2 separate regions of the Homo sapiens genome follow, and region 2 is linked to region 1. Evidence: fine-mapped expression QTL. A gene starts in region 1. The other region holds a variant in brackets. All regions are shown on one strand. Distances are from middle to middle. Region 1 holds the start of CAVIN2-AS1 (CAVIN2 and TMEFF2 antisense RNA 1). Region 2 overlaps TMEFF2 (transmembrane protein with EGF like and two follistatin like domains 2).

Region 1 (15,444 bases):
CAAATTACAGAGTTGATTCCATAGTGTACTGATACCAAATGTGTTTTGTTTTATGTAAGAATCAAAACTCTAGGACCTGAGTTGCATTGGAGAACATTTTTCATTCATTCAATTCAAATAGATATAGATTACAAAGCAGTGGAAGGGGCAGCATTTACTTGGAAGGGCTGCATCTGAAGGAGTCTAGTTTTTTTTTACATAAGAGTATGCAATGATTCTTTCTAAAAAATACCAGCAATAATCAGTTATTCACTTAAAGTGCCTGGGACAGTGCTCACATTCACTAAATGTAAATAATAACAATAAGAACTAATATTTTGTTTATCTCATAAAGTAAAAGGGCACTGGATAAGTAACACATCAAAACTAATATCCCATATGGGAACATTGTAGCGTGATAGAAACATGGCGAGTTGTCATATGAAGGCGTCTTTTATTACCTATATCCTCATTTCTTCCAGGTCTGTACTAATGTAACAGTCTTCAAAGCAGTGACTTTGGATAAAGTACAGGCTTTTTAAAAATGGTCTGAAGATGTTACACTTTTAGCGTCTCTCTAAAATTCTGACCTTATCAAAGGAACCCAAAGGATGAAGATTTGAACACATTTATAGGCTCCATTCTCCAGAAATGTATCCACTGCAAATAGCTAACCTTTCTACTTTTTTCACCCAGTTTCCCAATTTTATGTGGACGAAAGTGTAAGCTGTCCAAGAGTACTCTCATTTTGCTCCCTGGATTTGAAATCATCTCCCAACTGCTTTTTCAAATAATCATTACTAGAACCTAAGAGGACGTAAGAGGCTACTGCATCCTCAGGGCCAGTTACCTGTGAAATTCTAGTCTCTTAAATCAAAAGAGAAAATTTCCTCATAAGTGTAGAGTAACTGATTTTCTGTACAAATTCTATTTTTTCTTTTAGTAAATGATCGCTGTGCTTAGAAGCAAAGTCTCAGTCTTTCTTTAGCATTTGCTTTTTGATCAGCAATGCCTATGAGTCTTATTTTATTTATGCTGGGTCATGTCACAGTATTTTGAATTCAAATATTGATCTGAAGCTATTACAAAAAAGTTTAAAAGAGAAAACTGCTGAATTTAACTAGGATTTTAAGATTTATTTTATTGCTGAAAGAGAGATGAATGTTTCTTCAGTTTTAGACACTACTGGTTATAATTTAAAGTAATTGCTAAGAAATTAGATGCTTAACAGCTATAACAATGTTGTAACACTCAGTACAGACTTAAAGAAGTAATGTCACGTTTTGAGTGGGACAAATTAAGGACAAAGTTTGGAATTTAAAAAATGCAATTATGGCCAGGCATAGTGGCTCACGCCTATAATCCCAGCACTTTGGGAGACTGAGGCGGATGGATCACCTGATGTCAGGAGTTCAAGACCAGCCTGACCAACATGGTGAAACCCTGTCTCTGTTAAAAATACAAAAATGAGCTGGGCGTGGTGGCAGGGGCCTGTAATCCCAGCTACTTGGGAGGCTGAGGCAGGAGAATTGATTGAACCCAGGAGGTGGAGTTTGTAGTGAGCTGAGATTCCACCATTGCACTCCAGCCTTGGCAACAGAGCGAGACTCCGTCTCAAAGAAAAAAAAGAAAAAAAATGTGTAAGTATCTTCAACCACTAACCAAAACAGACCTGTAGATTTCGGCGGGCTCAACAGGATTCCACAAACTGAAAATGTACTCTTCTCAACAGTACCATACCAAATATGCTCAGGTCATGGGATAGATTTTCCTTTCTCGCTCTCTTATTTTTACATAATTTTTTGTCTTAAATTAGAAACAGTAGATTTAATAAGGGGAAGTCTGGCATAGGGTTCAGATGGGCTGAAAATGATAAATTACCTAAAGACACTGAGTAACACCTGGTACATATTTGCCCTCCACATTCTCCACAGGTCTAGGAAGCAGTCCCCTTATGCTCCACTGTGAAGATTATGCTGTGACTGGAGGGTTCGTTGAGTAGGTCTTTTGGGAAGATTCCTTTGCTTTCATGGAGATGAGATATAATGTTGATTTCAACATGGCGGTAGTTATACAATACATGGTTCTCTGTGTGTAGCGGAGCTGTTTTAAGATCCTGGGCAAGGTGAGGTCAGTTTTTACCCAAGGACCATATTTCTAACCAAGCAAAAGTGTAGCCTTCTTTCTGAGCAAATGAATTTCAGATCCACTCAGTAATATCTTCTATTCATTGAGCACTTATACCATGCCAGTCCTTGCTAACTATTTTAAATGTTATTTCTTTCATTCCTCACTCTATGAGAGAGATAGGAGGGAAGAAGCATTAGTGTTCAAGAGTACGTGCTTTGAAATCAATTAAACATGAGTTTGAATCCCAGTTTCACCACTTGCTTACTAACTAGCTTCAGACAAGCCATAAACGTTTTCGAATCTCAACATCCTCATCTGTAGATTCGGGATAAATGAGATAAGATGCTTACCAATGTATGCTGGGTTTATTAAGTGCTTGATTTTTTTTGCTCTTATTAATATCATCAGTGTATAGATGAGGAAACAGGTTTGGAGAAGCTACAAACTGTGTCCAATATCACATATTTAGCAAGTGGTAGAACTAGGATTTGAACTACTGTTTGTGTGACTCCAAAATTTATCTTCTGAACTACTATACTGGACCACTCTCTAATACAAATTATTATTTTATCCATTGGCATAATTACTACTCTGGGGAAACTGCTACTTTTAGAAGGAACAAGAGAGTCCACTGAGGGACTGTGCTTGCATTAGTTTTATACAAAACAATCATCTTGCGATGCCTTGAGAGTTGAGAATTCTAATATCCTTTAGGCTAATAAAGGATCTTACACGGCTTAAGAAAGGTCCAGTCACTTGCCTCTAGTTTCCTGCCTCCTAAAATGCTCTTTAAAGGTGTCCTTGGGGATTGTTTTCTAAAGGGCCCAGAATGGAGTCCGAGCACATTTCTGTGGATATTCTTAGCTTCCAGTTTGGTCTTGAGCACCCCTGTTTCAGCTTTTACTCACTATATGGAGAATTTCTACCATATCTGGCTGCAATTTCACACCTGTCAATTCAATGTGACAAAACAGGAGACCATGTCAGACCCTCACAACAGCATATGCCTTTAAGTTCCCAAGCAGTTTTTTTTTAATGTCAGATTTATAATTCTCCTGAATTTCTACTAGCATATCCTCTCCATCCCTCCCCCCAACATCTGCAGAACATCCATGACAAAACAAAACAAAACCCAATCCTGACGAATTGTGACTTTCCTCTACAAGATAAATACTTTTTTCCTCCTCCTTAACTGAGGGATGGGACAAGAGATAATTTGCCTGATTCATACTGGAAGCAGGAAAATTTCCTTTGGTGTCTCAGACTTAAACAGGTCTGTACATGTTTGGTTTTGTTTGGAGATCAGTATTTAATTTAGAAATGGCTTGAGAGCTGAGATTTCTAATATCTCTTAGGCTAATAAAGTAAGGATCTCATATGGCTTAAGAAAGGCCCAGTTACAGTATCTCTTTTCAATTCATCTGGTGCATGAAAAGCTACTGCATTTGCATTAAAAGCTGAAAAGTTTTCAGCTGCAAAAGCCTGCAAGGTAGAGGAGGACATAGGCTCCCTAAACCTTTACAATATTCAAGTGCAATTTGAGGAGGACAAAAAAGCAGCGAGATGAGTCTTTCCTTTTATGGGGGTAGGAAGGCTTCTAACTTGGCAGAGCAGATTCATTTTGAAAAAGAAGACTCCCTCGGTTTAAATCCCAATTTCTAAATCTCTCTTGGGAGATGAAGGCTTTCCCTGTGTGCCTTTCACAATCAAACTGTTGGTTATAGCCTCTCCCCTCCATGGCTTTGAAATCCTCTCCTATTCATATGGTCACAACGAGACAGCCCTGGAGCGAGGATGGCAATCGCTTCCTGGGCTCTGTGCTGGCTGGATTCCACTGGGCGGAAGGGCTTCCAGCATTAGGCAGGGCTGCCCTGGGATTCACAAATGCCCACCACTTGGCGGAACAAGAGCCCCACGCAATCTCCCTGTCCCCAGATAGCCTCTTGCTACATTAATTGCATCATTGATGCATTAAAAAAAATTAAGTGGCCTTTTTATTCTAAGGCAACCGTTTGAAGGAGAAACATTTAAGACTAGCCTTTGTGACTATAACTGATAACACTCCTTTTATTTTACTTAACAGTTGTGGTCTCTCTGAACAAGGAGAGGCACGTCTAGTGTGTTTGTACTCTCTTTTTCTAGTGCATTTGCTAGAAAAGAACTCCACAAGATTGCTTTGCCCCAAAAAAGTCTTAAAAGAACAAGGCTAACTCTAATGGAATCAATCCTCTATTTGATTGGTCCCCAAAACGTTGATAGCCTTTGTATAAAGGGATAGTTTGACTTTTTGGTTAAAAAAACCACAAAATACCTCACATGATCACTTCATTTCCACTAAGAGTTAATGAACAGCCACTGAATTAATTTGCCCTGTCCAGCTAACAGCTGCAGCCAGAGCCCTAAGCTCCTAATGCAAAGAGACAAATGAATTTGACTAGGGTGCACGCACCTGCACATCTTCCCAACCTGTACAGAGTGCATCCAGGTGCTCCCTGACAAATGACCCGGGGCCTACTAAGCCCGGGGACATCTTCTTTGGATTAGTCTGTAGTGACCTGGGAAATTCCCACCCCTGTGTGAAGATTTCACATTTGCTTTCCGCAGGCAGACAGGGGACAGTGCCTTGTATGTGTGATCCCTGACAGGCAGGACAAATGTAAAAATGGCTGTGAGAGCCAGGATGAGCGAGATCAAGAATGATAAGGAGTTCCAGCCCGCCTGTAAGGAGGCATAGGGGGAACTGACCTGGAAGATGAGCACTTTGAAATGGTTGCGTCGGAGGAGCTGGGCGTGGTTGTTCTCCAGCCGCTTCACCTGTGCGCACTGCCTATCCATGCGCTCTTTGACCGCGCGCGTGTGGGCGCTGACCTTGCGGGACTTCTCCAGCAGCTTGCTCACCGTGTTGCTGGTGGAGGCCTGGTACTTGGAGAGCTTGGTGAGGTCATTCTGGATGCCCTTCACGGAGCCCTCCAAACTGATCTGTCGCTGCTCCATCTTGTGCTGGTTCTCCTGCACAGCGTCTAGCATGTTCACCAGCTTGTCCAGGAGCGTGAGCACCGTGACTGCGTTCACCTGTGAGTTGTCCCGGATGGCCTCCTCTGTGTTCCCTAGGTTCAGGCTGGGGCTTGGTGTGGAGGAAGGCATCGGGCTGGGGCTCGAGGGCTTTTCCTGCCGCATGTCAGACCCAGGGTGCTGGAACTTTTCGGCCTGTGCAGCGTCCTCTCCCATGGCTAGGCAGGTGGGAACGTTCTTTCTCTCTGGGAGCTGCTTCTTGCTCGGGTGAGAAGTTGCGGTGGTGAGGGTGTAGGATGAGGCCCGCTGGTTGGAGCTCAGGGCACCAGTCTCCAGGACTGGCAGAGGTTCAGACAGGCAACAACTGGCTACGCTGATCAGGGGAACTGCATTCCAGCTGCTCTTAAAGGCCCTACTCCACCCAGTGGGAGGAGAAGTTTACAGAACTGAGAACCATTTAGGGTTCAGACGTATGCACACACTTCCTAACCGCGTTCTGGGCACAGGACACTTTGTTGCAGGTTTAGCTTTTCTTTCCTGTTCCCCTTCCCTTTCAATGTCATATTTCAATCATGACTTCATCTAGAGGCGGAGAAAAACATGCTAACTTGGCCCAGCTCCACAGCTTCCAATTGGCTAAAGCTGGTAAACTTTTCTCTGGCTGCTATGCTGCAGATGCAACAGGGTGCCTGTTTCTTTTTCCTGGATACAAGTTATTGTAACGGAAAGTATTGTTTGCATTTGCCCTAGAACTGACTGATGGGTTGCAGAACACCGGGTGTCCTACTGGGAGGCATAGAGTTTAAAGGGTACTGCAGCCAAGTTTGTATTATTAGTTTCTCATTTGCAAAGGAATGGGACTAACTCTGATAATGATAAGGAAAACAGCTCAGTTCTTATTACTCTTGCAGTTGCAGATACAAAATAAGTTAAAAGAGATTGAACTTCAGGGATATTTAAAAAAAGTAATACTGCTGTTATGACTGTTATGTAATATATGGAAACTTTTTGAATGACCACATTTAAAAAAATGATTGTTTTTTTCAAGAAGTGAGACTGAGGAAAAATAAAATGTGGTCTTTTTAAGAACCTACCGTGATGATTTGTTTTAACTAACTTTGAGTTGGTGAGGAGAGACTTTCTCAAATGCCCATCTCTGCAAGGCATTTATTGACACGTGCCCAGAAGTGTCTGTTGGCAGGCTGAGTTGGAGTTTCTCAAGTGGTTCTAATGTTTGACATTTTAAAATTCCTGCTCAGTGAAGTGGCACACCTGTTCTCAAATGTGGCCCTCCTCAGCTGAACCTTGGGATGTGGGGCTTATTTTCCTAAAATGGCTTTACATGCTTGAGTTGATTTTAAACGTATCCAGCCTTTGAAAGTGCTTTCAGCAGGAAGTTTGTAATAGGCCTTCTATGAACAATTTTGAGACGAACAAATGCCAGCTCATACCAGGTCAGGGATTGATAATGGAACAATGCCATTCGTCAATAGTAACACCTACATGTAAGCCAATCAATCAGCAGGCCATTGGTTATCACGTTGGTTGAATCTCTGCCTTCTGCTATATGCATGAAGCACTATCCAGAAGACATTGGCAAAGCATGACGGAGACCCTGCTCTCAATGAGTATAGCTGCCAGTTAGGAAGATGAACTAAAGATATTTACAGAGGCCTTCAATTTCTTCAGATAATTGGTGCCACCAAAACCCACTTAAAGCAAATGCTTTAAAAATAGAGACCAAAAAAGGTGAAAAGAAGGTTTGGTTGAGATGTTATCTTTTAAAAAAGTAAGAACATTATTAAAATTAATTTACCTTATATTTAATAAAATTTAGTTGGTCAAAAATGTGTTAAATATTAGAATAAAGGATGAATCAAGTGTTGATTTTAAGAAGCATAATTTTCTAACAAAATTATATGATATCATGACACGACGTCCTTTTACATTTGACTTTTGTGGGCAAATCATAGAGTGTCACTATTTCAAAAATATTTGAGGGCTTCATCAATTTTCCAAGAGCCTCTCTTAAATTTTGACATTCAAATCATTTCTTTTTGAAGCACTTATTGTGCCATCATCCATGTAGATTTGTTCTTCTTCAAATGTTAATGTTAACTATTCCAGCTGCAGATTCTCATTTGTCAGAGGAGTTGCCCATGATTCAAGGGCTTCTCTAACATTACCTTCATCAACTTCATGATTTCCTACATATTTTGCAAAATTTGCGATTTCACATTATAATCACTTCACCCTGATTTTGCATTGATTTGCGCTGATTTTGCATTGCATTGTTGGATATTGTATAATCAGCTAGATGAATAGAGACATTAAAGAGATGGGGTGTGAGGTGGTAAAAGGAAAGAGGCTAGTTGTTAAATAGAAAGAAAGGTTTGCGTGTGGGCTTATTTATTTTTAAAATATATATTTTGAATAACACAAGTAATATCAGTCATCTATTGCTGTGTAACATACCAGCATGAAACTCAGTGGCTTAAAATAACGTTTTATTTACTCATGATTCTGTGGTTGGCTAGTCAGGGCTCAACTAGAATGGATTATTTCTGCTAGGCATATGCATTCATCTGTAGTTTGAGCTGAGGAATCTGAGATGGACTCATTCACGTGTCTGCCTCCTCAGCTGGGGCAACTAGGATATTGGGATTTCTCTCTTTTCCATTTTTCAGCCTCTGGGGCCTCTCCATCTGATCTCTCTAGTAGGGAAGTCAAACTTTTTTTACATGGTACTTCAGGGTTCTAAGAGAGTAGAAGCAAAGCTGCAGGGTGTCTTAAGGCTGCAGGGTATCTCTGGAACTCTCCCCTTGTCACTTCTACATTCTGTGTTCCAAGTAGGTCACAGGCCAAGATCAGATTCAAGGGGTGGAAATAGACTCCACCTCTTTAAGAGAGAGAAGCAGTAATGTCCCATGACAAAAGGGTGAGCCGCTTGGGAGAGACTGTTGTAGTCACCTTTGAAAACAATCACCACGTGAATAGATTGTTCTTTTAAAAGGCTATCACAGATAAAGTGGAGCCCCTTTTGATCACCATTTCCATTTTATTCCCTTCCCTCTCTTGTCAGGTAATCATTTTAATGAATTTGGCATATATCCTTTAAAAATTATATTTAAAAGTGATCAGTTCATTAGTGAATAGTTTCATGCTGTGATGCAATTTGTTTTGTTGGACAACCTTACAATCAGGGGAGCTAGAAGGAGCTATGTAATGGGAACATACAAGATGGCCTGAAACTAAGTAATAGACTACCCTGAGCAGCCAGACTTACCATTTAGTTGTCCTAAATTAAGTCTTCTTTCTGTCTGAGAGAAATCAGTGAATTTCAGCGGTCAGTTCTTAAAAGAAATGCTTAAAATAATTAATTCTACCTACCACATATTATGAAGTTTCTTGGAAATTAGGTAGTGGAGTTTAGACTTGATACAGTGACAGGCTGGGGAGGTTTTTGAACACGTGAAGGTGATGTGTTTAAGAAGAATCTGTACAGCAATAAGATGTAGAGATGGGTCACTTGGCTGGTGGGAAATAAGTGCTAGGCACTGGGGATGCAAAGATGAATGGTGTGTATTTGTTACCCTTTAAAATCTCCCACCTTAGGAGGATAGGTAGGTAGACAAATCCTAGGGATAGAGGTACAGGTGTGGGCACAGAGAGGGAATGATTAGCTCTGCTGGAGTCTAGGACCATGAAGGCTTTAGTCATGACAGGGTATGGTTAGGACTCAGAATCCTCCAGCTGATCACCAGCTCCCCCGAACACCAGTTAACCTCAGAGGTTTAAGTCACAGAAGCACAGAAGTCATTCCAGGAAAATACCTACTTTATTATCAGTTAAGGAATTGGTCCCAATTTCTATGTGGTTTCCTATTCTGAACCACTAGCCCATAATTCCTAGACCAGAGGCAGCTCAGTGGTCTCTTTTGTTGACCTTTTCCATGTAGGTCCATAAAGTAATCTGGGCACTCTTGGTCTGACAGCAATAGGAGACCTGGAATGAGGATCCCACAGAAAAGAAAGCCCTTTGCCCCAGTGGCTAAAGAAACAAAGAAAGCTAAGCAGGCTACTCCATATATATTTTCCCCTGTCCTCTATGTTGGAGTTTGAAAGCCTTTCAAAGGGTGGGTTTCCTCTTGAACAGGAGGCAGTCCTAGGGTTGTATATTCACCATATGGAAAGAAAGAAAAACCATGTGATGACACATCCACGTGTTTTATGTCATCGAGTTTTGGGGTGATTTTTTAATGCAACAGTAGATAACTGGGAACTGTAGTTTGCAATGACAGTGTAATTCTAAAATAATTATTGTTAATAGTCTAGGTTTGTTCCTAGAACCCCTCTATCTAATATGTTTTATGCATACTACTGTTTCCAAAACTTAACTGCTAAGGTAGTGTTATAAAGCAAAATAAAGGACTTTGTGTGATTATTCTCACCTTAAGAAAAACTTAACACTGGGTTTAATACCAAAAGGTGGTAGGAAAAAAGCATATTACCAGGATAAAATGCATTATGCAGAAAGGAAGGTGGAGTTGAAAGATCATCTGACCCTATCTGGGCGAACTCTATATCGAGTCATTGAATCCTGCAGTGGGTGTGGATAGAAAGTGAGGGTGCAGTTTGCAGAATGCCTGAACGTCTTGCCTTATCTTTTTCTACGGCAGTGAAGAGGAATCAAGTGTTTACTTTCACTAGAAATATTAATGATGAAAAGCACATGATTATATGATTCGAATCTCTTCCAACCAAAGTCCTTGTGTATCAATGATGTCAGTAAGAAGTAGAGAAATGTATAAGGAAATCCTACATAAATGAGTGATGAAGCATAAATAATGTATAGTGTTTACATATAAGGTAAATTTTACCCACTTCCCATGTGCTGTCATTTAGGAACTCCAAGATTTTAGAAAACTCTAGAGGAGCTTACATTCTCAAGGCCTTCTCTGGCTCTTGGGTTTAAATAAGTGTTTCTCTATGTGCCATATCTGTACTTCTCCATAACTGCCCGGTTGTAAACTCCAACCCCTTCTTTAAGTATCATACAATCCACTCACATAAAGTATTTCTAAGTGGAGTAGATGTTAATGAAGTTTTAGAGTCACAGTTAGGAAGATTTCTGACATCTTGCTGGTTTTTCTCCTCCTAGTTTTCTTTCTTCTGTTTTCTCCTTACCTCCATCCACTCTCTGTATCATGAAAAGAAATATTACTCAAACACTGGACATTAGGTTTTATGTTCTACCCCAAGAAGATATGTTATTATTATCATAAAAGAAAGTTTTCTCCCTTTCTAAGAAGAATTCTGGTGCTCTGGTGCCAGTTAACTCTTTTTTACTTTTTTTTTTGTTTTTGTCAAGAACACAGGTAGGAAGACACATTAGAACATTGTTCCTTCATAAGTCATTCATTTAACAAATATTATTGAGTAAATATTAAGTGCTAGGAATACAGCAGTGAACAAGAGACAAAGCCCCTGTTCTTATGGAGCATATATTTTTGGCAGGGGGAGGGGTGTGAGATTGGAAACAGATAATAAATAAAACACAATGTAATATCAGATAATGATAAACACTAGGAAGAAAACTAAAGCAGACTAAGCGGCCTGAGAGTGATGAGGATGCTATCTTAGGGTGGTCAAGGAAGTCCTCTTTGAACCAGGACCATTTAAGCAGAGATATGTTGCAGGAATCTGGATGAGAGGAAAGGGCTTTCTTCTGTAGCAATTTGTCGTTTTTAACATGGTGATATAGTTTTAGTTGGGCACATGGGCATCCAGCTAAAGACAACACTTCCCAACCTTTCTTTGAGCTGGGTGTGGACGTTTTACTGACTTCTGTTCAATAGATGTGAAAAGTGATATGGGCCCCTTCCAAATGCTGCCCTTCAAATAATTAGTTGTGTGCCCTGTTGATTCTTACCTTCTTTTCCCCGTATTTCTTTTTTTTTTTTTTTTTTTAAGGAGATGTCAAAAGCTGACTGTCGACACAGAAATAGAAACCATTGACTTAATGATTGAAGATGGCAGCTCTTCCTGCTCTCTCACTCTTGTCCCCTTACCTCTCTCTCCCGCCACCTTTTCTCATTGCCCTTGGTCAACAGAGTAACAGTTAAGAGCATGGACTCTCAAACCAGATTTCCCAGTTTCTGATTCCAGCAAGGTTGTATGACCTTGGACAAATTGCTTTTCCTTTGTAGGCCCCAGGTTCTTATTATAAAATGAGGATAATGATAATTCTTACTATTATGGGTTGTTACAGAGATTAAATGAGTTAATATTTGTGAAATATTTGGACCAGTGCCTGGAACAGGTAAGCAGCACATGTGTTAAATACATAAATTAAATAAAAACCCTTACTAATATAACTATTTAGTTCAGCCTCATGGCTTTGAAGGTGTGACTTTATTTCTTTTCAAAAATATGTTGATATCTTGTATTGCATATGCCATAGTAAAAATTAATGCCTCTTCTGCTGTCTCTATCTGCCCTGTTCATTCACTCAGTACTGTGTGGCGTACCTTAGGGAAATATATGGGAGTGCCTTGGCCTTTCTTACACATAAGTTAATCAACTGCCTTAAGTGAATTGCTATATGCTCAGCACAGACTTAGACTTTCAGACAATATGAAATAAATATAAATCAACATCTTCATCCTGGAGAGGTTCAGAGTCTTACAGGAAGAGCAAGATTTACGCACAAGAAACAGTTAGAAGACAATACAAGGCAATACCTGATGAAGTGTTGAATTTGTCCTTTTTTAGTTTCAGGAAACACTTAATATCACAATAACCCTTAGTTTTTGTTTTTCATTGCAGACCCCTAAAGCAAACAGGAATTGAGGCAAAGAGCTTTAAATTAAAAGGATAATTTAGTAATAATGCTTTTCTTATAATACAGCATTTTTCATATATGATGTCTTGAGATACTGTAAAACCTTGGAAAATAATGCTTGAAGGAAATGGGTGGGTATCTATTGTTTTTCCATGACCAAATTGATGCTTAGGGGAAGTCTAGGGCTCTGCAAAGAACAGCAAGATGAGCAGATAGATATAATATGCTCTTCCTTCCCCGGCTAGAGGCAGCGTTTCCACCCTTTTCCTCAGTTTTCCTTTCCCTGTCTCGTGACACCTAACTGCTGTTTATTGAATCTTAAATCTCTCCCATGAAGGCGATTTTAGAGATTCCTTTGGTCACGTTTCAGCGTTTAATAAGCCTTATTTTGAAATTGTTAGTTTTGAGGTCTATCTTGTGAATTTGTTCTTTGAAGTTTCATGATAGATGGATGTCAAGAAGTCATAAAATTCTGTCCTCTATTAAAGCAAACAAACAAGCCCATAAAAGCCAAGGACAACAACGGAAATGTGTTACCCTGTCTGAAAAGAAAGTTATATTAATTTGAAAGCTTTAGAGAAGGAAATTCTAAAACCATTTTGCTAACCAAGTCTGTTATATGTCAGGAAGTTCTTCATAAATGATTTAAATCCTTATCATAGCAACATAAAACCATTTCCTCTCATTCTGCTGTTTTTTGAGTTAATGAATAGTCATATAATGTATTTTTATGAACTACCTATTGTCATTTTTCTGTAATTACTACATATTCATATTAAAATTTAGGATTCCTGGTTAAATCAAGGCTATCTGGATAGAACCCACTGCTTATAAATAACTTTGTATCAAAAATATTTTGGCAATGCAACTTGATTCAGCAATAAAATATTTTTGTAGGTGAATAATGGTGGCAGCTAGAAGCATTTGCCTGGTGGTTTACACTTAGGAAGTACTTGAACTATCTTGAATTATCTCTGAATGCTAAAAATGTGTGATTCCAAATTCCTTTCCCTCTGGCCTCACATTTGTTGGCTTCAAAGAACTATTGTCTTAGTGGAAGCTATGGCTCTATTCCAGTTGAAAAAATAAATAAATATTGAGCGAGCCAGAAATCCAGGTAACAAGCAGAGGTGACAAGAGCAGAGGGAATAAGGGTTTGGCTGACTGTCCTCATGTACCTGACTGCTTCATTAAAACATATTTTCAGTATCTCCTCCTAAAACAATTATGGGCTGTTGCACAGGCACAGTCATCATATCAGGGCTGATTAACACAAAACATGATGGAATTTATTATAATGTGAAAGGAATTTCGTGTCTTTGGGGCTTACTTTCCTCATTTGTAAAACTGGTCTCTGATTTCGGAGGCCTTTTCCAGTGATATTATTTTATAATTTAATGAACACTTTAACACATTTTTTTGCAGAGTAATTTTGTTAGTATTGTCTCGCATTCTCAACTTTAAAAACAGAAACAATACAGCATTTTTTGGTCACTAGATTTCACCTCTTCTCACAGTCGAGGTAGTTTGACAAAGTGTAGTGTTTCAGTGGACTGAGAAATCAAAAGACCTGAACTAGATTTTTGGCTCTGACACTAACTGGATGACATTGAACACTCAACCTTGTGGGCACTGGCTTTCCTTATTTATAACATGAATGGTTTCACTGTATGATCTAATTCAATTCAACAAACAGTTATTAATTGCTTCCTGAGTTTAAGACCTTTGAATAGGACATAAGGGTGAAGTTGGGGAAAATACAAATTAAAAGCATGGAGAAAGAAACTGTTAATGAAATATGCGGCCAGTGAGAGAAAAGGACAGAGTTAAGCATTACAATAGAAAAAAACCAAAGTTCTAGGAGCACAAAGGAGGCAATGAATACATTTCGAAGTTTTCAAGTATTATGAAAGATAATGTTAACCTATAATGGAAGAGCCCTTCAGGGAAAGATGTATTTGGCCTGCATTTTGGACACCGTAGCTAGCGGATATAGTTCATTGCAGCAGCTACTTAGAGCCACAATCTACTATGGTGATTAGGCATGTCCATCTCTCGCTGCTAATTTCACTCCTCTGCAGGGTGTAAGAGAAATGAAAACGTGGGAAGATAGAGTTTTTCCAGTTCAGGGATTGACCTTTAAAGGAATCAGGGCAGAGAGAGGGTTATGTCAGTAGAGTAAATGAGTGTAAATATCCCTGACATAAGATTGAACTAATTAAGTTTAAATGGGAGGGAGCCTGATCTAAATTAGAGAAAAATATTATCTAAATTATAGGATCTTTCTTTCAAAAAATGCAATGTAATTATATTATTTTCAAGTATATGTGGTAAGTTGAACTAATTGCTAGAAAAACATTTCTAAGTTTAAGTGCTATTGGAATCTTCTTTTAATGAATAGATAAATTTGGATTCATGCGGACTATCCTTTGGAATGCATATAATTTATGTGTTAATATGTTTGAAACAAAATGGCTAATCAAGCTCTTTAAATTTTGTTCATGCTGCTAATTTGTTTAGTGACCCCCTTTATATAAATAGTTCAGAGGTAAACTCAAGTCCAATATGGTTCTAATTTTCAAAAGTTCGTTACGAATTAGTGGAGTCTGAATGAATGCTGTCTCACTCAGGTTCTTATGTGCTAGAAATGGTGCAACTTGTTGACAATCAGATCTGGCACTGTTATCCCTAAAAAGCTGTCGATAAAATCAAATCATAAAGGGAGACCAGCTAACTGCTTCAGGCTGTCATATACCATGTCATAGTAAGGGACATGACTGATGAGGTTCTGGAGGCTCTTTTTGGACACAAATATATTGATAGCAGTTGGAAGATGGAAGTAAAACAAAGTGGTCAGGAGAGTTCCTCACAGTGTCTGTTCAAGCTTAGCTATTGTTCAGGTAGGAAGAAGGTCAGATCCAGGCAAGAATTAAGGAGAAGCCGAGATGACAAAAGTTTAAAAGAAATCCTGAAAGAGGAAGCAGTCTGGATGCAGGAGCAGGCAGAAGCAAGGAGATACCGGGTGGTTTTCTTGAAGAGCATTCAAAACATGGGAAACGCCATGTGAAATTCTGGGGTCAGCTTTTTGAGCTAATCACACTGGTATTCATAATGGCAGGAACTGTTGTGAGCTGATCTTTGACTCTGCCTCCCAGAGTCACATGGTCTAAAATACCCAAATCTCCAGTATGTAGGTCCAGAAATGTAATCTTATCCGCTCATTCTTAGATAATATTTGGGGAAAATTAACTCACTCTACTGAAACTCACAGGAGAGAAATATATGAATCCAAGTATCTGTGTATTAATTAATAAAAAGAGAGCTAATTGGTATAACAAAGCACAGTGGCCATTTTGGAAGCCTAGTAAATGCTAAGATGGCATAAAAGAAGATTGATATTCCCGAGAAATGTTTTATTGAGTTGTGGGTAACTATATGTACTGATCTTTCATATTTTGGGTACATTATGCCTTGCCATGG
Region 2 (15,444 bases), 180 kb after region 1:
ACAATATTGTGAAGCAGCAAGGTTGCTTCAGACAAGGATTTATGTGGCCAAGTGCAGTGGCTTTTACTTGTTGAAATTAGCACACATCCTGTCCTTACAACGTCAAAAGGGATGCTTCTGTTTATATTGAATAAACAGGCAGAGGTTGAGTCCAGCCTTTTTTTAAAACACTGTATTATCTTGAGTGCATAAACAAGACTGACAAAACAGTTTTTCTTAAATGGCACACTGATGCATTCTGTATTCTGCTACTTGGAAACAAAGACTTAGCTTCTGTCATTATAAAAGACCCTTGAAACAGATCTAGAAGTGAAAGCTTATGCATTGTGGGATAGACCGAAGAAGAAAACTGAAGAAAATGCTTAGATCTACAAAGACTTCTGTTCATTTTTATTTTCTTTTTCTGAAAATTGAATACAAGCACTGGGAAGCATTATTTGCTCACACAATGCCTGACCACATGTGCAAGCCATTAAAAGGGCGTAGCTCCCCTGCCATTTTGATGCAGTCCAAAATAAAAATATAAATGCCAATGGAACAGTTTCTCCAGATATTCTCCAGCTGTCCCTTGTATCATTAATTTTCTTTTCAAGTACAATAATTCACCCCTAACAATAACTTAAATAAGATTTTTTAAGAGGTCAGAAAAAATCCATGTTTAGAGGGGGGACAGTTCATGACAAGGGGGAATAAAGAGAAATCAGTATATGTGGCTTGTGCAAAAATAAGGATCTGAAATAATAACGACAGTCTTAATCTTGCAATATTTGAGGAAAATATTAAGGTCAACTTCTCATTATGGTAATTTTTCACGAAGACTGATTACCAGAATTTAAATCAAAGTTCCACTGCATCATTAATTCACTTATTCATTCATTCCAAAAGCATGTATTCAGTCCTTGCTTTGTGTTGTATATTACATATGATAAAGGCATGTCAGGATATATATCAGAGAGGAGCGCTATCCTTAAGGAGATTATCACATAGAACAGTATACAAAATAATATGTACATGAGTAACTATATAGAGAGTATACGAAAGAAAAGAACAAGTCAAAACAGAAAGATGATGTTGGATGTGGCAGCAACATCTAAAATGGTCCTCAAGGGTCTTGCCTCCTGGTATTCATGCCCTTGTGTAATGCCCTACCCTTGAGTGTGGGCTGTAACTAGTAACTATTCTTGTAAAACAGGAGAAGTGATGGGCAGGGCTGGCTTTACAGGCATGTGGCCAGTGCACACAGGGCACACAGAGTCCTGAACTTGGTTTAATGTTCTGTTGTCATCAACTTGATATTCTTAATCATTTTAGCTTTGAATTTTGTAAATGAAGTCAAGTGAGACAATGGATCAGAGCATGAGCTCCATGAGCTGTGTTCAATATGTGTGTCTGCCTCCTCCCCTTGCCACCTTGTTCACATAGATGGTTCTCAGTGCCTCATGAGCGCAGGATTCTGGTGACCCCATGAGTCATGGGAACTCGTGAGACTCAAAGCAAGTACAAGGTAAGTGCTGTTATGGTTTGGCTGTGTCCCCACCCAAATCTCATCTTGAATTTAACTCCCGTAATTCTCCTGTGGGAGGAACCTAGTGGGAGTGATTGAATTATGGGGGGGGGGGGGGTCTTTCTTGCACTGTTCTTGTGATAGTGAATGAGTCTCATGAGATCTGATGGTTTTAAAAATGGAAGTTTCCCTGCACAAGCTCTCTTTTTGCCTGCTACCATGCATGTAAGAGGTGACTTGCTCCTCCTTGCCTTCTGCCATGATTGTGAGGCTTCCCCAGCCATGTGGGACTGTAAGTCCATTAAACCTCTTTCTTTTGTAAATTGCCCAGTCTTGGGTATGTCTTTATCAGCAGTGTGAAAACAGACTAATACAAGTGCATTACTTCTATGAGTAAGTAAGGAGGAAGCAGATTGCCCCAACAAGATGCCTCTTTTGTTCAAACCAGAGCTTGTTTATCACAGAGAAAGATGGCAATAATGTCCTGAGAAATACGAATGACCAAGGAACGCTATCATACTGTTTTGTGTGTGTGTGTGTGTGTGTGTGTGTGACTTCCCTGGATGTGTGGAAGTTGACTTCCCTGGATTAGCCAACCATTTATACTGAAAATTATGACACTGGTGGAAAAAGACAGGGCAGACTGTATTTTCTTTTCCTTTCAGTCATTTCTTATCAGCAAGCAAAGGTAGGCAGAGTTGGTAGAATGCGTGAGCATCATGATGTGCAATAAAAACAGTTAAATTCGTTTTGTGTAAGTTTCCACTATTCTTGTAAGAATGAAATACACATGAATGTATAAGCTATGAGATACAAATTGTGTAATTTTGGTGATTCTATATAAAAATTAGATGCTCTTATATTTGCATCTAAACCTGGCATAGTACAATATAAAAATGAATGGTAAAATTATGCTAATTATTTAAAATTTTAACCTTTCTCTACTCAGAATGACAAAGCAAGTAAAAATCACCATAGGAAGTCAAGAAAAAGACACCAACAGAAGAAAGAAAAAACCCTTTAAGGGAACTTCTTCCTGCTTTTTGAACTAGGGACTTCACATATTTCTTTTGCATTGGGCCCCACAAATAACAGGCCACAATGATGCTATGTTGCTTCCAAGACTAGATTATAAAAATAATACTCTGGCATCCACCTCTTCTCCCCCTCCCCCCACGTCCATTCTCTACCTACCATCTCTTTCTTAGGGGTTGGGGGAAGGGAGGGAATTTCAGCCATTTTGTCAAGACACCTTGGCCAACAACCACCAAGAGCCTGAGTATTGCCAGCAGACGCATGAGTGAGCTTGCAAGTGGATCTTCCCCCTGCTGAGCCTTGAGAGAACTGCAGCCCTGGCTGACATCTTGATTGCAGTTGTAGGAGGAACCCTAAGTCAGAAGCACAGCTAAGCCACACCCAGATTCCCAACCCACATAAACTCTGAGGTATAAACATTGTTGTTTTAAGCTGCTAAATTGTAGGATGATTTGTAATGCAGCAATAGAAAAGGAATACATTGAGATTCAGTGGAATGACAGCTTCCTCCCAAGGACTGAGGAAGAGTCCTCTGACCTAAATCTTTTAGGATGAGCATTTCGTGATGGAGGAAGTGGCATCACAGGTAGAAGATGCTACGTAATCTAGGCCAGGACAACATTTCCCAAACCACTTTCTCACAGAACCCCATCATAATCTTAAAAATTATTGGAAGACCCCAAAGAGCTTTTATTTATGCATTCTATACATATTGATATTTATCATATTAGAAAATGCAATTGAGGCATTTAAAATTTGTATTTATCGATGGATTTAGAAACAATAACATACCCATTGCATGTTGAGATAGATAACATTTTTAAAAAAATGAATATGCTTTCTAAAAATAAATTCAGTGAGAAGAATGGCACTGTGTACATTTTTGAAAACCCCTTTAATCCTTGGCTTAATACAACAAAGCTGGATTCTATACCTGCTTCTTCATTGAATCTGTTGAAGAGCACATATCAAGTAGCCTCTGGAAAACTCCACTGTGCATTTGTGTAAGAATGAGAATAAAAAAGGCAAATAATATCTTAGTCGCTGGACCACACATTGAGACAAACCGATCTAGGGCATGGAGATGAGAGAGTCCAGAGCACATACTGACTAAACCATGTTGAAGAAGGAAAAATAAGGTTATTCTCAGAAGGCTTGCATATCATAGTCAATAGTTTATTCAGTAGAGGATTTGGCAGACATTATTTGCTGCCCATCCAAAAGCCATTTCTGCTCCCTTTCTTCCTTGCTAAAGAATCCTTGAATCTGTTCAGATATTAGAAGGTCATGAGTTGAGGGAAAGCATGTTGATTGGTGTTCCCTTTCCCATGATTGCTATAAGCACACATATGTGACACAACCATGGTGATGAAAAGAAATCAGCTGTGGTTGGTGGTGATAGCAAAGTGTAAGCTTTCATTGATACAGAGGCTTACTCATTTCTGCCTTTGGTTATTGTGCTGCTTCTGCTTGCTGTAGCCTTCCTGTTTCAATGATGAGAAGGCCAAAGGAATCTGTGAGCTGACCCAGAGCCCGCATGTTGTTGACAAGCCACAGAGTTGCCCAACCTCTTTTATTGTTATTTTGATTCAGGGAATTCCTGAAGATTCTGAAATTGTGAACTGACAAGCCCATGGATGTCTACAAAGAGTGAACTGATCACTGTGGGCTGGCCTTTGAGGCATCAGTGAGGTGATTATTAAGATAGTCAAGTTAAAGGTACTATGGGTCTGAACTACACTGGTGTCAACAGAAACAAAAAGAATACAGTAAATGTGAAAGAACTGTGGAGATAAATTTTTAGGACTTAGCAGCTGAGTAGATGGACATTGGCATGCACGGACAGGGGAACAGAAGGCAAGCATCAGCAATGGCATGGTTAATTCTTCGCCTGCATGATTAGAAGAATAGAACAGAAATACTGCAGGTTGGGCGGGGCGGGGAGTTGATGGGTTAAATTGGGACATACAGAGTCAAGAAACAGATACCTAAAATAGAGTGCATGTGGTTGGTGCTTACATAAATGTTTGCTGTGATCTGGGACAGAAATGATCTGATAGTCATAGGGTTTGTTTCCTCATCTCCTTCACATTTTTACTAAAATATTGCTGCCTTAGGAAAGCCTTCCTTGGTCATCCTATCTGAAATTGCAATATTCATGACCTACTTCCTTAACACTCTTGTCCAATATATCCTAATAAGTCCTGTGTCACTTCTACACTATTTTTTTACCTGAGCATTTATTTATATTAAACTACATATATGCTTACTTATTTATCATGTTTTCCTAATAGAAGGTAAGCTCAATAATGGAACTTTTTATCTGTTTTGCTCACTTTGTAGCTCCAGTGCCTGGGACAATGCCTGACACTTAGCAGACAGTCAGTGAATGTGTTATATAAATGAATGAATACTTGGAGCGTGAGAATCAGAGCGGCAAAAATATTTGTCCATAATATGCCTAAAGATAAAAACGGAAGCCTCAGAACTAGATAAGTGCATTGTAATTGAATGCTGAATTCACAGAGATAACATCTGAGATTTATTAAGCATCAAGTCATGTCTTAAAAATTTTATATACATTTTAGGATTTAACTCTTATAAAAATCCTGTGGGTAAGTACTGTTGTCTCTCCCACTTTACAGGTAGAGAGGCTGAGGTTCAGAGAGATTAGGTAACTCAACTAAGGTCAAAAAGTTGGTCAGGGAGCTGGGCCTTTATATAAAACACCAAAATGAGCCCTTGTGTAGAACCCTTGAGAGAGATTTTAATCTAATGGCTGCAATTTTAAATTGTGTTCAGTTGTGGTATGTAGTTTTTCAAGGAAGATGACCCACAGCCTTTCTTGCTTTCTGGCTTTGGAAAAGGTAGAGATGACCACTTAAACATTCAAGGAAAATAATCCCTGACTTTGAAATCAGAAGATCATTCAGATAATATACTTACTTATAATCATCCTCTCTAATGTCTGACTAAAGCAAGAGTAAAAGATTGACTGAACAGCAACAAATACTTTAACAGTTAAAAATAAAATTGATTGGTCTGTTGGAAACACAAAGCACTTTTAGCCCCATTGGTTTTCTACCTGAAACCAGAGTGAAGTGACCTGAAGGATCTCATAAGATATATAAGACCAGCAACTATAGGAAAGATGATACTTTTCTTGAAGTCATATATTGTCTAAGTTGAAGTTACATGACTTAGAAGGTCAGATGTGCCATCTTTTCCCTTAATGCCCCAGAGATTCTCTTCACCAAGAAAATGACTACATACTTATTTCATTTAAAACAGACTCAGCCTAGTGATGGTTTTCCTTCTTCTATAAAAAAGCAGGCTATTCATGAAGATAAGGACCCTTTTGGCTTTGCAACACGTTTTCAACATTTTACTCATGGACATGAGATGGTAAAACAAGATGAAAATGATTCTTTTATTGGGCATTCAATTAAAAAATGTCATGACTTTGCCATTAGTTTGTATAAATCCTAGAAATGAGTTTCAACGAGAGTGTGTTATTATGTTGGGAAAGAGACGGAAGTGTATAACCTTGGGCAGATCGTTTAACTTCTCTCTGCTTTACAGTTACAAGCGGTAATACAAAGAGACAGGATTATATGATCTCCAAGGTCCCATCCAGCCCATTTAACACGGTATGATTATTTGAGAGGCAATTTAATGAGGTAGTGAGAAGCCTGGGCTCTGGAGCCAGAATGCCTATGTTCAGATCTTGGCCCCCTTCACTTATCAGCCATAGGACATAGTGTAAGGAATGTACCTCCTAACAGTTTCTCCCCGTTTCCTCATCAGCAAAATCAGGATAGGAACACTCACAGGGTCCTTTTGAGTAGCAAACAAAGTCGTCTTTGTGAACAATTGCTGTTAATTTTATATTATAAATAAACCTGTTGTTTTTTTCTCTAACAACAACAAAGTAACTTTCCTAAGATTCAGGATGGTATGGTTTTTCTTGGTTTAAGCTCTTTATTTAATACCTACACTAGTATTCAAAGTATAAAAATAGATTAAAGCACTAATTTTGTTTTTACAAACCCAAACAATTGGTTTGATTGTGTTAATACCCACTCACCTCAAGCCCCCAGTAGAATAAGTGCTAACATGCATGGCCTATTTAAGTGTCTGCTTTGGAGTCAGATAAAGAATTTCTGTGATGAACTAAGACACTATCATACAGGTAATCAATAATGACAGAACAAATACGTTCCTCCAAATCAGTATAAATAATAAATGTTTAAGACATAGGCAAAGATACTTTTGAGATAAACTTCTTTAGATAAGCAATTCAAAGAAAACTGAGATTGATGATAGTTATTACGTATATTCCTAATAACTTCATATAATAGATGTTCAAATTCTCTTTATATGAATGAGAACCTGGTGACTCAGGAAGGTTAAGAAATTTGCATAAGGCCACACAGCAGTAAGTGGACACACCAAAATTTAAGCCAAGCAAACTGATTTTAGCAGCTCAGCTCTTAATTAGACTGCTTTTAGCACAAAAAAACCAGTTTGGATTTTTTTTTTTTTTTTTTTTACACAAAACCTGTGCTCTCTCAAAATACCAAGCTGCCTCATTAGATAAGTCTCTCCATACATCCATCTGTTTGGCCCTCCATCCATCAATCCATCCAAACATATTTTTCCCTATTAAATATGACCAGGAGGACTGGAGCTCTTGGTTCATGGTCAATGAATAAAGATAGGCAGATTTTTACATTTAAATTTTGATATAGTGTGATTATCCCACACCTATGATTTGGCTACAACTCAGTCACAAATTGACCATCTATCCTGGTAACAAGGCCTTTTGTTAGTGAGAATTCTCTAGTTAGTTTTTACTAACTAAAGAGGTTTGCACCTCTTTCTCCTTTAAAAAATCCTTTTTTTGGCCAGGCATGGTGGCTCACGCCCGTAATCCCAGCACTCTGGGAGGCCTAGGTGGGCAGATCACGAGGTCAGGAGATTGAGACCATCCTGGCTAACATGGTGAAACCCCATCTCTACTAAAAATACAAAAAATTAGCCGGGCGTGGTGGCAAGCGCCTGTAGTCCCAGCTACTCAGGAGGCTGAGGAAGGAGAATGGCGTGAACCCGGGAGGCGGAGCTTGCAGTGAGCCGAGATCGTGCCACTGCACTCCAGCCTGGGTGACAGAGCAGGACTCCATTTCAAAAAAAAAAAAAAAAAAATCCTTTTTTTATAAATATGATTTTGAGTATCAAGAAAAAATAAAATTTAATGAGTATGTTTTTCATTTACAGTTCACAAATCTTAGAATTCCAGTTAAAATAACAATCTCAATATAGTGTTAAGTACAAATCCTAAAATTTAAAGTTAGGTTATGAGAAGTAGTCAAAGATTGAGCTGAAAAATATATTCATTCCCTTCCCTTCCACTCTCCCATCACTCCTCCATGGGGAAAAAAAATCACGAATATGTTGCACGTTGTAGGAACAAAAATGGATTTACCTTTTTTGTCTTCTTTTCCTTTTACTAATCTCTACATTGGTAGGTCCTATATGGAAAATCAATTTCTGCTTTATTCTTGTAAGCTTGGTTTTATCTTTCTAAATATATTCTTCTTGTCAGAACCCAATCAAGCATTTTACTCTCTCCTGTTTATAAATTGTTGTCCTACTTTATAATTTTGGTTATGATTGTCTCTGGTTCATTTTATCCTTTGTCATAGGCATTGTGGCTCTGGAGACCTGGAAGCACTGCTAACTGTTCTCTCGATTTTCTGACGCTCGGCCACATCAACCTGTCATACTAGTTGTGAGGAGAAGTCAAGGACAGTGACACAGCCAGCCAGTCTGAGGCATTTTCCATCATCCTGAAGGAGTTGCCCTATCCTGCTTTTCACTGGAGGGGG[C/T]ATGGATGGGTAGGTAAACACACCTGCCGTGAAGTTTCCAGTTCTATCCTCCTGCAAGGCCTTCGGGGATAAGTGTGTTAGAAGATTGGTCAGTATCATTTGCCAACTTGATGTCTCTTCCTTTTTTAATGATCCTTAGTTTCCCCACTGTTTCCTGTCACAGGATTCAATTTCACTCCACATTCATCCTTTCTTACTGGGCACTGATGTTGAGAGCATCAGGCAGGGTATAATGTTATGTTGCAGTAACAAACACCCTCAATATCTCAGTGGCTTAAAATGACAACGATCTTTTTTTTGTTTGTTTGTTTATGCTCTATATCACCCAGGGATCCTGGATGACAAAGCAGTCACCTACTTGAACACTGCTAATTATGAAGTCAGAAAGAGGAAAGTTTGCAGAGTTTTGTATTGGCAATCAAACATTCAGCCACAGGTCACAGTCTAGAACCAGACACATCAGTGTCCTCAACTGCAAAGTAGCCAGGAAGCAGCATCCCATAACACAGTCCTATGTCCACTGTTTTGGAGGTAGGAAATTGGAAATATTCAGTGAGTAGCACTGTGAGTAGGGCAGTAATTTCATTTTTTAATTAAACAAATGGAAGATGGCAGCTCCTCAGTTTTTTCTTCTATGGTTTATTTCTGATGTCTTATCTTAATTAATATATCCTGATATCTATTTCCCATTACTTAGTCTGTCCTTTTTCCCAATATCCAGTTATTTTCAGTAAATATTTTCTGTCATTACACCCAGCAGTCTAACTTTTTGCGACTTCAGTGTCTATTCTCATTCCTCAGTCCCAAATCCATTTTCTTTATTAGATTTATCTGAACTCCTGCAGCTCTTTCTGTCTGCATCACACAACTTAACCTTTAATTACTTGCCTACTGGGCATTCTACTTGGTTCTGCCTTTTATCAGCTGAATCAGAACATAACTTTCTCTCACCACCTCCCTCCCCTACTCCAAATTGACTTTACCTCCTGATCCCCTATTTCCAAAGTGGTTCCATTATTCTTCTCAGTGCTCAGCCTTAACATCTTCGTTTCTGTTTGACTTCTAATCTCTGGCATCTCATAATTGTGCAGTTACCAAACTCTCCCCCATGAACTCGATGTGCTCATGTGGATCAAATGACACAGTAAAAGTGAAAGCACGTTGTAGACTCCAAATACAAGAGGATACTGCTCTCTATTCCTTCAACTATTTTTCATTCCTTATTTATTTATTCATCATTCATTTATTCATGTAGTTACTCAAGACCTAAGTGTTTTCTTGGAACTGTGTTTGTTACTGAGGAAGCCACAAATTAAATATAAGTCTGCTCTTCAAGAGGTTACATTCCAGTTAAGGAGATTGCATATCCATATTTCCAGAAGTACCAATGTGATTGAAGCAAGGGAAATTGCTATGGGATATCTGACCAACTGGATATTCTGCTGGAAGAGCAGAATGCACTTCAAAGACTAGCCAATAAAACTCTCATGTAAGATATGTTTTTCTTTTTGTTTCTATTTAACTAATGAATAGAACCTCAGTGATTTAAGGAAAGGCAGGCCCATGATATGGAAAGAGAAGGGGATGATGATGATATTCTGGAATGGTCGTGCAAGGCTTCAGGAGGAAGTGAGAGTGATGATTGAATCATATAACTCCTGAATAAATATCTGGAATAAACATCTCCAGAATAAAACATCTGGAGGATTCTCAGTATACTTAGAATAAAATTGAGCCTCCTCATGAAGGCCTACTAGCACCTTCATGATCAAACCCCTTTTCAACTTTGACCTTCTTTCTTATTTTAGGGGCTCCTGACACACTGACCTCTGTCAGTTCCTTCAGCACACCAGGCTAATCCCCAGTCTTGCGCCTTTGGACCAGAGGTTTTCTTTGCTCAGAATACTGTTTCAACAGATCTTTGCATAGCTGGCTCTCGCTATTTGACTAAAATGTCAATCCTCAGAGAGGTACTCCTTAAATATCCAATCTTAAGTAGCATCCCTTTCTCCCAGGATCCTGTTTTTCAGAACTCTGTTTTCTTTTTAAAACACTTGTTATCTGAAAGGATGTCGTCTGCTTGCTTGTTTGTTCATTTCTTTATTGTCTATTCCATCTCACCCCTTCTCAGGATGTAAGCTGTTTAAAGGCAAGGACCTTATCTGTGTTACATGCTGTATTCCCAGGGCTCAGACAGAGCATGACCTATCGTATGTACTAAATAAATATCTCCTCATACTGTAAAGCTTTCCTGACTCTAATCTCTCTTTTGGGGACCATTACCAAGCCTCATTACTGGCTTCTTTCTCTTTAATGCCACTTTTACTATATAGCAAATGTTCTGGCCAGTGGGATGTTGCTAGAAGTGCAGAATGCACTTCTAAGACTAGCCAAAATAAAGAAAGAAAGAAAGAAAGAAAGAAAGAAAGAAAGAAAGAAAGAAAGAAAGAAAGAAAGAAAAACAGAAAACAGAAAAAAAAACCTCTCACTTAAGTTTTTTTTCTTTCTATTAAATTAATGAATAGAACCTCAGTGAGGTTCTATTTCCTTAGAAATAGAAGGAATTTCTAAGGCAGGTCCTTCTGCCTTAGAAGGAAAGGCAGGTCCACGATATGGAAAGACCCTTGGCCCCTGCAGGACCTTGTATTAGGCTGCCTGATTGGCACCATCTTCTCTGACCTATGATGAGAGTAACAAGTGTGTGTGTGTGTGTGTGTGTTTGTGCGTGTGTGAGAGAGAAAGAGAGAGAGGAGAGAAAGAGAGAGAAAGAGAGAGAGAGAGAGAGAGAGAGAGAGACCTCTGAGAATTTGGCACTTATCTGTTATAGCATTTGATATTGCTTACCCTATCATACATGGCAACAAAATCTTCCATCATTTGGCTACATGCACTTTTCTAACTCTTCAAGTACTATACACATTCTCAACCATAAACTGTTCTTTCTTTTGAAAGGACAGTTTTTCTGTCTTAATTCTACCTTGACTTCTATCCTATAGCATTCTGCAGTGAAAAGGACATGGACCTTGGAATTAAATTTGAGATTGAACTCAAGATCCACCTCAACCTACCAACATATATTCGGCATGTTACCCACCTCTCTGAACCTTGCTTTCCTTCTTTGTACAGATGGAGGAAAGTCACGACTAACCATTCTGTTGTGAAAGATTAAATAAGATGGTGCACATGACTTCATATATGTTCATTAATACATTTCTTTCTGTTTCTTCAAGAAACTTCTTTCCCTTCTTTACACATGTAAAAGTCCTTTGAGTCTTACAAGTTCTTCACTATGCCCCAGGTTTTCTAGAGCACATTTGGAAAGAATGTTGACAGAACAGGTAAGAGTACGACCTCTGGGTTCAAATTTTGGCTTTGACCTTTAAGAGCTAAGTAAACTTAGACAAGTTATTTAACACCTTTGTACCTCAAGTTCATCATCTTTAAAACTGGAATACTAATAGTACATAACTTGTACTGCTCTTTTGAAGGTTCAATGAGTTAAGGAATGCAAAGTCCTTAGAAGAGTGTAGTGCACAAAGTAAGCACTACAACAATAATACTTAGTTGTTATTTTAAATTTTTTTTTTAAACCTTTCAAACCTAACCATCCCAACTCCTACTGACACTGCTCTTTTCTTTCTTTTTTTATTTATTTTTTTGAGGTGGGGTCTCACTCTGTTCTTAGCTCACTGCAGCCTCTGCCTTCCCCAGCTCAAGTGATCCTCCCACCTCAGCTTCCAGAGTAGCTGGGACTACAGATGTCCACCACCATGCCTGGCTAGGTGTTTTTGTAGATACAGGGTTTCACCATGTAGCCCAGGCTGGTCTAGAACTCCTGGACTGAGCAATCTACCTGCCTCGGCCTCCCAAGATACTGGGATTACAGACTCGTGAGACACCCTGCCCAGCCTCCTCTTTCTATACTTAAGATACTTGTTGTACCCATTGTATTGTTTTCCTTTTAAAAAGAAAGCCTTCCTGACAAGTAACTTTGCAAGCTACAGTTTTTAATATCCACACTGTTCTATATCAACCCTTCTAGCCAATGTTATAGGCAGCAAAAATAGAATTTAACTAAATTACATTTAAAAAAATGCAAGCCTATGGCCCTCATGCACTCTACTTTATTGCCATGTGGTTTTTGGTCCTTAATGCAAAGATATTTCCCGCCCCCCCCATCTAACTTAACATTATAGTAGAAGACTTTAATTTGAAATGGTGTCTTGGTTTAGGGCAAACAAAAATTGAGGAAAAGACAGGCAATAGACGAATAACTGGGTTAAAGTTTTCAGCAGCCTGATTATACTAATGAAGGACTACAAGTCCTATTGTGAGGATTTATAGGAAAAAAAGGCAAATATAACTAGAAAATTATTGGTTATTTATCAATTCTATGAATAAAAAAAGAAAGAACAGAATTGGTAGTAGGAAGTCTTATAAGTAAATTTATCTCAAAGTCAGATTGGATGTTCTAAACCCATAATTATAATTGCTAGGCCCAAAATTGGATATGTTGCTATTGCTTTGTACATTTTTCTCTTTGCTTCTCATTTGTGTTTTTAATCAATTAATTACAATTAAAGCAAGGATATTTATCATAAAACTTTGATCAGACCAATGTTTTCCAATCTGTGCAACTTATATAACAGCAATTTCTTTTATTCTTAGTAGTAAAATAAAATATTTACAGAAAAATAAACTATGTTGGGAAATGGTACTTCATTGCCACAAACCAAGTCATCTAATTTCCCAACTGTTCATAAAGTAGTTTTGAATAAATCGGAGAATGGTTCAGGAAACACTATCCTAGGACCATCTCAGGACACCAGGCATTCATTCTTATTCTGCCATATGAACAAGTGATTTATTGCTCAATAACTACTTAGTTTTGCTGTCTGTGAATGTGAATTATAATTTTAAAGATTCACATTAGATATTTTAGAGATGCTTCCTAATCTCTGGCTGAGATTATTGATAATTGAAAGGAGACTAAGGAATACAGTGGCCATGTATTCCTCATGTTTTACTCCTGTACTGGCTCATATAACTATAACAATGATATGCCTGGATACCAGTATTCAAGTTTTAACAAAGAATCACCTACAATTTTACAAGTTTATCAGTAATAAATTATATTAAGTTCCAATATAAATAATTTTATGTAATTTATAAGCTAGTAATCAAAGATAGTGTCATTTATTTTATTCAAAATCATATTAAATGTACACAGTATACATTTTTGTAGAATTCAGAACTGGTAAAAGTATTTCTTGATGAACTAGTTGTCTTTTCTAACTACACCATAAGAGTTATTTCTTTTCTTTCTCACCTTGAATTCAGAGCACTCAGAGATAAGCCTTTTGATTAATAGTAGCAGCTTCTCTTAGCCTTGGTTTTCCTTTAAATCTATTATTTCTATCCTGCCTTTTACATTCTTCCTTCTCCTCAACATTGTCTTTTTATTCAACTCGAATTTTCTCTCTTATTTAAGTATCTTCATTATATGTTTACCTTTTGTCATAGCTGCTTCAAATCCTTTGAAGAGCTTCCTATTTTCTGTGCTTTCTAAAGAGGTGACTAGCTAATATGAAAAACTTGTTTCTGTTAATGTATAAGGATTAAAATATAAAGTGGGAAGTCTTGCCTTCTGGACATGATAGATTATCTTCTCAAATTTAAAAGTCACTCTGGAAATTTTAGGCCAAAAAGAAAGAGAAAAAAATGCCACTAGGACCACTGGGGACGCTTTGGGGGTAGTTCTTTAGAGCTCACAGTAGTTCTTCTGCTATGATAGATGATGTTAGAGCCCAAAGAAACCATAGAAACCTTATAGAGCAACACCCTCATTTCCTGAATTTTACATATGAGAAAATGAAGTCCAGTTGTAGCATAAGAATAGATACATAGATCACCGGAATAGAATGAGACTAGAGAAATAAATCTTTGTATACAGGGTCAATTGATTTCAATAAGGGTGTCCAAAAAATTTGATGATGAAAGGCTAGTCTTTTCAACAAATGGTGTAGAAACAACTGGATATCTACATGTAACAAATGAATTTGGACCCCTTCCTCACTCCATCTGCAAAAAATACCACAAAATGGATCACAGACCTAAATATAGAGCTAAAACTATAAATCCCTTAGAAGAAAATATTGGAATAAATATTTGCTCCCTTGGGTTGAGCAAAACCTTCTTAGATATAACAACAAACACAAGCAACAACAAAGTAAATTGGAGTTCATCAAAATTAAAAAGTTTGTGTTTCAAAGGATACGGTCAAGAGAGTGAAAGGCAATTCCACAAAATAGAGAAACTACCTGCAAACCATATATCTGCCAGGGAACTTATATTTAGATTATATATATTTTTAAAACTCTTACAGCTCAATAACAAATAGACAAATCGCTGAATTTAAGAATAGACAAATGATCTGAATGGATATTTCTTCTAAAAAGATAAACAAATGTTCAATATACAAATAAAAAGAGACCAACACCATTAGACCTGTGAAATGTGAATCAAAACCACAATCAGATACCACTTCATACCAACTAGGATAGTAATAATCAAAAAGACAGATAATTACAAGCATTGGCAAGGATGTGAAGAAGTGTGGACACTCATACGCTGCTGGTGGAATATAAGTGTTGCAGGTACTTTGGAAAATAGTCTGGCCCTTCCTCAAAAAGTTAACCATAAAGTTACCATATGACCTAGCAATTCCACTCCTATGTATATACCCGAGACCTGAAAACATACATTCCCACACAATCTCGTACATAAATGTTCATAACAGCATTATTCATAGTAGTCAAAAAGTAGAAACAACCCAAATGTTCCTCAACTGATGAACAAATAACCCAAATATGGTATATTCATACAGTGGAAATACTTTTCATGCTAGGGAAGCCGTAGAAAAGGAGAGAGATGGGGGATCAGCGGGTCAGTAAAACATATAACGTTTTATCAGTTAAGTTTACTTGTTTTATATGGGTTTGGTTTGGGTGCCCCAAA

The links. PIP is the estimated chance that this variant, and not a neighbour inherited with it, causes the effect. A credible set is the group of variants that fine-mapping cannot tell apart.
Region 2: its variant is the best candidate, but not a certain one, in a credible set for the expression of CAVIN2-AS1 in lung (TOPMed, PIP 0.83).

What each region holds. Positions count from the first base shown.
Region 1 is chr2:191,841,589-191,857,032 of GRCh38, forward strand. It overlaps CAVIN2-AS1 (CAVIN2 and TMEFF2 antisense RNA 1), which reads left to right and starts at 4,900. Exons shown (of 4, transcript NR_187184.1): 1 at 4,900-5,183. It overlaps CAVIN2 (caveolae associated protein 2), which reads right to left and starts at 5,500. Exons shown (of 2, transcript NM_004657.6): 1 at 4,855-5,500. The coding sequence starts at 5,337. RefSeq lists an enhancer at 5,205-5,713.
Region 2 is chr2:192,026,450-192,041,893 of GRCh38, forward strand. The region is part of intron 5 of TMEFF2 (transmembrane protein with EGF like and two follistatin like domains 2); the gene reads right to left. CAVIN2-AS1 (CAVIN2 and TMEFF2 antisense RNA 1) reads left to right here. Exons shown (of 4, transcript NR_187184.1): 2 at 8,245-8,436. Among named protein-coding and RNA genes, the nearest start is that of TMEFF2, 160 kb to the right of the region's middle. RefSeq lists an enhancer at 2,757-2,926. The variant C/T (reference allele first, on the strand shown) is at 8,428.